Homo sapiens: one gene and its partner. The protein of the gene in region 2 interacts with the protein of the main gene of each other region in a pairwise test. Each region holds a gene or a part of one and is shown on either strand. Other genes may lie near its edges.

The links. Proteins that work in one complex are often made in the same cells at the same time.
Region 1: the proteins of POLE (region 2) and WHR1 interact in a two-hybrid assay, tested with the Homo sapiens proteins (one study listed by BioGRID and IntAct).

The regions. Positions count from the first base shown.
Region 1 is NC_000006.12:31,974,320-31,978,688, reverse strand, and holds part of WHR1 (winged helix repair factor 1), read right to left. Parts: intron 1-4,369. UniProt on the Homo sapiens protein: DNA-binding protein which is required for efficient transcription-coupled nucleotide excision repair (TC-NER). Acts as part of a TC-NER complex which assembles and interacts with RNA polymerase II (RNAPII) when it stalls at DNA lesions.
Region 2 is NC_000012.12:132,644,823-132,649,342, forward strand, and holds part of POLE (DNA polymerase epsilon catalytic subunit A), read right to left. Parts: coding exon 4,484-4,520; intron 4,251-4,483; coding exon 4,107-4,250; intron 1-4,106. UniProt on the Homo sapiens protein: Catalytic component of the DNA polymerase epsilon complex. Participates in chromosomal DNA replication.

The DNA of each region.
Region 1 (4,369 bases), on a different chromosome or scaffold from region 2:
CTATCAAAGAGTCAATATAATTTCTAAGACCAGGCACTAAGATAAAATAGTGATTAAGATGCAGGCTGTGGCTTCAAAACATTAACAGTCTAAATTCTGGGTAGGGTAAGGTGGGGAGGAGTATGGGATTCAATGTTTAAAACAAATAAAAATAAACCAGGACTTCTGTTTACGAGAATACAGCAAGAACTAATCCACCTGTTGAAAATTAACTAAAATCCTGGATAAAAATGTTATTTTAAAATTGTTTAAGACCAGGTACAGTGGCTCATGCCTGTAATTCAGCATTTTGGGAGGCTGAGGTAGCAGGATCAATTGAGGACAGGAGTTCGAGACCAGTCTGGGCAACACAGTGAGACCCCCCCACCCGCCACATCTCTACAAAAAATGTAAAAACAGCCAGGCGTGGGGGCAGACACCTATGGTCCTAGCTACTTGGGAGACTAAGGCAAGAGGATCACTTGACCCAGGAGTTTGAGGCTGCAGTAAGATATGATTGCAACTGGGCAACACAGTGAGACCCCATCTCTTAAAAAAAATTGTTTAGACACTAAAGAGCTCACAGGATAACAGGAATTACCACTAATATAACATCTAAGTAGGCCGGGCGAGATGGCTCAAGCCTGTAATCCCGGCACTTTGGGAGGCTGACGTGGGTGGATCACCTGAGGTCAGGAGTTCAATATCAGCCTGACCAATATGGTAAAACCCCGTCTCTACTAAAACTACAAAAATTAGCCGGGCGTGGTGATGTGTGCCTGTAGTCCCAGCTACTCAGGAGGCTGACACAGGAGAACTGCTTGAACCCAGAAAGTTGCTGTGAGCCGAGATCATGCCACTGCGCTCCAGCCTGGGTGACAGAGTGAGACTCTAACTCAAAAAATAAAAATAAAAATAACTGGGGCCGGGCACGGTGGCTCATGCCTGTAATCCCAGCACTTTGGGACGCTAAGGGTGGATCACTTGAGGTCAGAAGTTCAAGTTCAAGACCAGCCTGGCCAACATGATGAAACCCGGTCTCCATTAAAAATACAAAAATAGGCCAGATGCGGTGGCTCATGCCTGTAATCCCAGCACTTTGGCAGGCTGAGACGGGTGGATCACGAGGTCCGGAGATCAAGACCATCCTGGCTAACACGGTGAAACCCCATCTCTACTAAAAATACAAAAAAAAAAACAATTAGCCAGGCATAGTGGCGGGCACCTGTAGTCCCAGCTACTCGGGAGGCTGAGGCGGGAGAATGGGTGAACCCAGGAGGCAGAGCTTGCAGTAAGCCAAGATCATGCCACTGAACTCCAGCCTGGGTGACAGAGCGAGACTCCGTCTCAAAAAAAAAAAAAAAAAAAAAATTAGCTGGGCGTGGTGTCAGGTGCCTGTAATGCCAGCTACTTGGGAGGCTGAGGCAGGAGAATCACTTGAACTCAGGAGGCAGAGGTTGCAGTGAGCCAAGATCATACCACTGCACTCCAGCTTGGTGACAGGGTAAGACACTGTCTCAAAAAAAAAAAAGTAATTGGAACATGGAGGGCATTTATTAATCTAGGCAAATCTGCCCAGAACATTTTCAAAAGTAACTGGGCGCATAAGGAAACAAAACTCAAAGAGAGAATAAAAACAAACCCCAAAAGACAAGTAATAGTGGAATTATCCTTTCCACGGTCTCCCTCTGATGCCGAGCCGAAGCTGGACTGTACTGCTGCCATCTCAGCTCACTGCAACCTCCCTGCCTGACTCTCCTGCCTCAGCCTGCCGAGTGCCTGCGATTGCAGGCGCGCGCCGCCACGCCTGACTGGTTTTCGTATTTTGTTAGTGGAGACGGGGTTTCGCTGTGTTGGCCGGGCTGGTCTCCAGCTCCTAACCGCGAGTGATCCGCCAGCCTCGGCCTCCGGAGGTGCCGCGATTGCAGACGGTGTCTGGTTCACTCAGTGCTCAATGGTGCCCAGGCTGGAGTGCAGTGGCGGGATCTCGGCTTGCTACAACCTCCACCTCCCAGCCGCCTGCCTTGGCCTCCCAAAGTGCCCAGAGTGCAGCCTCTGCCCGGCCGCCACCCCGTCTGGGAAGTGAGGGGCGTCTCTGCCTGGCCGCCCATCGTCTGGGATGTGAGGAGCCCCTCTGCCTGGCTGCCCAGTCTGGAAAGTGAGGAGTGTCTCTGCCCGGCCGCCATCCCATCTAGGAAGTGAGGAGCGTCTCTGCCCGGCCGCTCATCGTCTGAGATGTGGGGAGCGCCTTTGCCCCGCCGCCCCGTCTGGGATGTGAGGAGCGCCTCTGCCCGGCCGCGACCCCGTCTGGGAGGTGAGGAGGGTCTCTGCCCAGCCTCCCCGTCTGAGAAGGGAGGAGACCCTCCGCCCGGCAGCCGCCCCGTCTGAGAAGTGAGGAGCATCTCCGCCCGGCAGCCGCCCCCTCCAGGAGGGAGGTGGGGGGGTCAGCCCCCTGCCCGGCCAGCCACCCCGTCCGGGAGGTGAGGGGCGCCCCTGCCCAGCCACCCCTACTGGGAAGTGAGGAGCCCCTCTGCCCGGCCAGCCGCCCTGTCCGGGAGGGAGGTGGGGGGGTCAGCCCCCCACGCAGCCAGCCGCCCCGTCCGGGAGGGAGGTGGGGGGTCAGCCCCCCACCCGGCCAGCCGCCCCGTCTGGGAGGGAGGTGGTGGGGTCAGCCCCCCCCGCCCGGCCAGCCGCCTCGTCCGGGAGGTGAGGGGCGCCTCTGCCCGGCCGCCCCTACTGGGAAGTGAGGAGCCCCTCTGCCCGGCCAGCCGCCCCGTCCGGGAGGGAGGTGGGGGGGTCAGCCCCCCGCCCGGCCAGCCGCCCTGTCCGGGAGGTGAGGGGCGCCTCTGCCCGGCCGCCCCTGCTGGGAAGTGAGGAGCCCCTCTGCCCGGCCACCACCCCATCTGGGAGGTGTGCCCAACAGCTCATTGAGAACGGGCCACGATGACAATGGTGGTTTTGTGGACTAGAAAGCGGGAAAAGGTGGGGAAAAGATTGAGAAATCGGATGGTTGCCGTGTCTGTGTGGAAAGAGGTAGACATGGGAGACTTTTCAAAAAAAAAAAAAAATAGTGGAATTATCAAAAAGACAATTAAAAAAAAAAAAAACAGCACTTTGGGAGGCCGAGGCAGGCAGATCATCTGAGTCAGGAGTTTGAGACCAGCCTGGCCAACAGGGTGAAACCCCATCCCTATAAAAATACAAAATTAGGCCGGGTGCGGTGGATCATGCCTGTAATCCCAGCACTTTGGGAGGCCGAGGAGGGCAGATCACGAGGTCAGGAGATCAAGACCATTATGGCCAACATGATGAAACCCCCATCTCTACTAAAAATACCAAAATTAGCTGGGCATGGTGGCGCGTGCCTGTAGTCTCAGCTAATCAGGACAGTGAGGCAGGAGAATTGCTTGAACCCAGGAGGCAGAGGTTGCAGTGAGTTGAGATCACACCACTGCACTCCAGCCTGGGCAACAGAGCGACACTCCACCTCAAAAAAAAAAAAAAAAAAGGGAAAACTAAGGCAACAATGACCACAGCAGTCACCTCCCAGGGACATTCTGATCAGAGACATTTTGATCAGAGAGGGATATATGTGGGATACTGGTCATATTCTATAGTTTGACCTAGGGAGTGGCTAGATAGGTATCTGCTTTATAAACATCATTTAAATTATATATGTTTATATTTTCATTCTGCAACTTTTAAAGGTTTTTAAAAACAAAAGCTAACACCAATACATTAAAATCAACAAATACTCCTTAAGGAGTGGTTCCATCTGGCATGCTTCCTCACGGGAGACCTAGTCAGGGAGACTAGCTCACCTCAAGTGAGTGCTAGACTGCCTTCCTTTTCTTTCCTCTTTTCTTGAAAGATCACTATTAACCTTCTACCTGCTAAATCCAATGGACAGATTTCAGTTCTGGGTTTTTTTGTTGTTGTTTTCATTTTTTTAGAGACAGGGTCTCCCTCTGTTACCCAGCCTGGAGTGCAGTCGTGCAATCATAGCTCACTGCAGCCTCAAATTCCTGGGCTCAAGCACTCCTTCTGCCTCAACTTCCCAAACAGCTAGAACAATAGGTGCACACCACCATGCCCAGCTAAGAATTTTTGTGTTTTAATTTATTTATTTAGTAGAGATGGGATCTCAGTTATTTAGTAAAGATGGGGTCTCACTTTGTTGCCCAGGCTGGTCTCAAACTTTTGGTTTCAAGCTATACTCCTGCCTCAGTCTCCCAAAGTGGTGGGAGTACAGGCATGAGCCACCACACTCAGCCTAGATTTCAGTTTATATTTTACTTTACCTCTTCCCTCTTCTTAGACCACTGTCTTGAATCACAGGTTCTAATACTGCCAACTACTTCACTTTCTCAAAAATCTCTTTACTTTCACA
Region 2 (4,520 bases):
TAGCTCCCTGTGTGGGGTCCTGGGGGGGTCTGGGAGAGCTGGAGAGGGGGCACCCTAGCTCCCTGTGTGGGGTCCTGGGGGGGTCTGGGAGAGCTGGAGAGGGGCACCCTAGCTTCCTGTGTGGGGTCCTGGGGGGGTCTGGGAGAGCTGGAGAGGGGCACCCTAGCTTCGTGAATGGGGTCCTGGGGGGGCCTGGGAAAGCTGGAGAGGGGGCACCCTAGCTTCCTGTGTGGGGTCCTGGGGGGGTCTGGGAGAGCTGGAGAGGGGCACCCTAGCTCCCTGTGTGGGGTCCTGGGGGGGTCTGGGAGAGCTGGAGAGGGGGCACCCTAGCTTCCTGTGTGGGGTCCTGGGGGGTCTGGGAGAGCTGGAGAGGGTGCACCCTAGCTTCCTGTGTGGGGTCCTGGGGGGTCTGGGAGAGCTGAAGAGGGGGCACCCTAGCTCCCTGTGTGGAGGGCTGGGGGAATTCTGGAGAGGCGAGCTGGAGAGGGGTACCCTAGCTCCCTGTGTGGAGGGCTGGGGGAATCCTGGAGAGGAGAGCTGGAGAGGGGGCACCCTAGCTTCGTGTGTGGGGGGCTGGGGGAATCCTGGAGAGGAGCACCCTAGCTTCATGCATGAACCAGCAGCACAAGTCCCAGGCTCACTACGAGCTGCACTTGCACAGGTGACCCAAAACAACGCAGCAGAGGCTCTGGAGGCTGAGCTGACATTGGAAGCTTTGCACAAAGAGGCAAGGAAGAGCTTGGGCACTGGAATTAACCGTGTTGGTTGTTGCTAAAACAAACAAACAAAAAAACCTGACACGCTAAAGGATTTTTAAAAATACCCAAAGTCTCAAATATGTAAAATGTCCAGGTTGCAATAAAGCGTTATTTGGCGTAACAACAACCAGGAAAATCTGAATAATTCTCAAGCGAGAAGAGAACCAGTAGGGTTAGATTTTTCCAGTAACATGAAATTAGACCGACACACACACACACCCACACACACACACACAAAATCAAAGAAATGAAAAATTATGTTCTGGTAAATATGAACTGGAACAATTAGTGTAATTGCACTTTTTAAAATGTATATATTTCCTGGCTGTTCACTGAAGGAATCTAGATGAAATGATACCCCTTGAGCTCTAAGCTTGGTTTCTCAACATAACCTCTCAACGAGGCTCAGGCTCTTTAGAGGAACAGCTAATTCCACGTCTGGAAGTTCAAGGTGAGCCTGGCCTCTCTTAGTGGCCAAAAAGCAAGGAAGTTTTCAAAGACCAACAGGGCATGTCAAAAGGACTCAGGTGCCAGCTTGAAGGGATCTGGCCAGCCCAATTTGGGATAATTTGAGTCTCAAGAAGATATTGACCACCAAAGAGTCTACTGTCTGGTTCCATTAATATGAAGTTCTAGAAAGTCACATGCACACAGTTACAGAAATACAGAAATCAGGCCAGCAGAAGGTTGCACAGGGGGACAAGAGCACCCTCCCGGGTGATGGAAACGTTCTGCACCTGGGTGGGGGTGTGGGTGACACAGGCATAGTCATGTGTCCAAAAACCCAATCAACTGCACATTTAAAAATCTGCACTTAACTATATGTAAATTACAGTAAGTCCTCACTTAACATCAATGGATTCCTGGAAACTGTGATGGTTAAGTGAAGTAATGTATAGCAGGTCCTCAAATAACATCATTTTGTTCAACATTCTTTCTTCCTTTAAAAAAAAAAAAAAAAAAATTCTGGGGCCGGGCGCCATGGTTCAACCTGTAATCCCAGCACTTTGGGAGGCCGAGGTGGATGGATTACCTGAGGTCAGGAGTTCGAGACCAGCCTAACCAACACAGAGAAACCCCATCTCTACTAAAAAATACAAAATTAGCCGGGCGTGGTGGTGCGTGCCTGTAATCCCAGCTACTTGGGAGGCTGAGGCAGGAGAATTTCTTGAACCCGGGAGGCGGAGGTTGCGGTGAGCCGAGATGCGCCACTGGACTCCAGCCGGGCAACAGGAGAGAAACTCCATCTCAAAACAAACAAACAAACAAATAAAAATAAATAAATTTAAAAAATACTCTGTAGAGAAGGGGTTTTGCCACGTTGCCCAGGCTGGTCTCGAATGCCTGAGCTCAAGCAATCCACCAGCCTCAGCCTCCCAAATTGCTGGGATTACAGATATGCAGCACTGCGCCTGGCCAACACAGTTTCATTATAGTTTCTGAGAAGAAAAAAAATCTGTTTCATTATACATCATCTTACTTAGTCATTTCACTTAAAATTGCAGTTTCTAAGGACCTATCAACAACATAAAGTGAGGGCCTACCGTGTACCTTAACATACCTAACGTGTGTGTGTTGGGCGGGATTTGGCTACGGTTGATGTTAAAACATTAAACACTGAGGCAGGAGGATTGCTTGAGCCCAAGAGTACAAGGCTGCAGTGAGGCAAGATCATGCCACTGCACTCCAGCCTGGGTGATGGAGTGAGAGACCTTCTCAAAAACAGAAACAAAAAAGTTAAACAAAAATCCTCTAATCCATAGTAATACTTTAAAAAGAGAGGAAAAATGAAAGGAATAAACCCATTTTGCCATGCCCTACCTTGAAAATTAAAAATAATTTAAAGGGAAAAAGCATTTATCTTGCTTAAAAAAAAAAAAAGCGTATTATCCCTCTCGTATCTTGCTTTTTAAGGAATAGAGTTCATTTCTACCTGATCTGCACAAAGCTCTTCGTTATAAAGGAAACAGCTAATACACACAGAGGAACAGAATCTGAAGATATCATCCTGGAGCCCCATGGACCCCACGAGACATGGATGCTGACACCATCCAGTCAAACGTTGAGGACAGAATATTCACACAGCGCCAGAACCTCCCTCGAGATGAGCTGATAGTCATAAAGGGAAACATCCCAAAAGTTAGGGCACTTCCACACGGCCACAGCACCACAGCACCACGCATCGAAAGGAAGGTGTAGAAACCCCACAGTCCCACCTGTTCTCTGTGGTCTCGATGCCTCTGCGTCCGCTTTCCTCTTGTTATCCGCCCACCTCGGTCTCCCAAAGTGCGGGGATTACAGGTGTGAACCACCACACCTGGCTCTGCGTCTACTTTCTATATGCACATTCTACTGAATCACCTGGCTGGAATCGAGTTTCACCTTCTCCAGAAAACCTCCTTGTGTAGGTACAAATATGCACACCTCATCTCCCCAACTACGTGTCACTTCTTACGTGATTCACAGCATCCAGTCAAGAAATGTGCTGAGCCGACACATTAACAACGGGGAGTTCGGGTGGAGATGCCATCTAAGAGCCTCAGCGCACTCATGGCCACATGAAAACCCTCGCAGTTTCTGCAGGTGGAAGAAGCCCAGCACAAAGACCCACCTACTGTAGGGTTCCATTTACATCAAATGCCCAAACAGGCAAACCCAGAGACAGGAAGTGGATCAGTGGCTACTGAGGGCTGGGGGAGGATGGTGACAGGTAAGGGATGCCAGGTTTCTTTTTGGAGTGATGAAAATATCCGAATGGGGGGGTGAGGGGAGGGGGAATATCAGGATAAACAGCTAATGCATGTGGGGCCTAATGCCCAGGTGACGGGGTGATGGGTGCAGCAAACCACCATGGCATGTGCTTACTTATGTAACAAACCTGCACTTTCTGCACATGGATCCCAGAAATCAAAGTAAAATTAAAAAAAAGAAAAAAAAAGAAAATGTCACTATTGACTGGCAATAGTCATGCCACTAAAAGTCATTGAATTCTGCACTTTAAATGGGTGAGTTGGATGGCGTAACTTTACATCCCAATAAAGCTGTTAACAACCAAAGAGCCTACGGAGACAGAGTTCACAATCTCTAACCAATGCCACTTGGTTTGTCCCCGCAACATGGACCTCGCGGGCAGACAAGCTCATCGTGACAAGGACACCAGCAGCTCCATTCCCGGCACTCGCTCTGCCCCAGGCTCGGTGCTCAGCGCTCACACACGTTGTTTTGAGGAATTCCTAGAACATCCCCATAAGGTACTGAGGAGATGGAGGCTGGAGGCCAGGCTAGATCATGGGAAAGCCACCTCAGGCTGCCCAGATGACTGCAGAGGCAGCACCAGCTCCTCCCTACCTTGCGATACGAAGCACCCTCCTCCGCTTTAGCGACTCGCTGGTTCACGTAGAACACACGGGGGATGCTCAGCCTGATGCAGTGCAAGTCACTGCCAACGAGCGCCCACAGCCTGAACAGGCCGGCCTGGCTGGTCTCGCTGATCTGAAAGGCCACACGGACATACAGCACATCACAGGACACACTGGAACCCACAGACGGGGCCACCTTCCAGGTAGCTTGCAGCTCCCAGCACAGGGCCTTAGGCCTCCCTACGATGGGCAGGAAACTCCAGGCCCACTCTAACCCTCCCATCCCAGACCTCAGGGCCCAGCTGGACACCCCCTCCCTGGGCCATCAGCAGAGCCACTGCCCTCCCCTTGGATCAAGGTCTATACCTGCACAATCTGCCACGGAAGGTCCAGGATGCTGCGG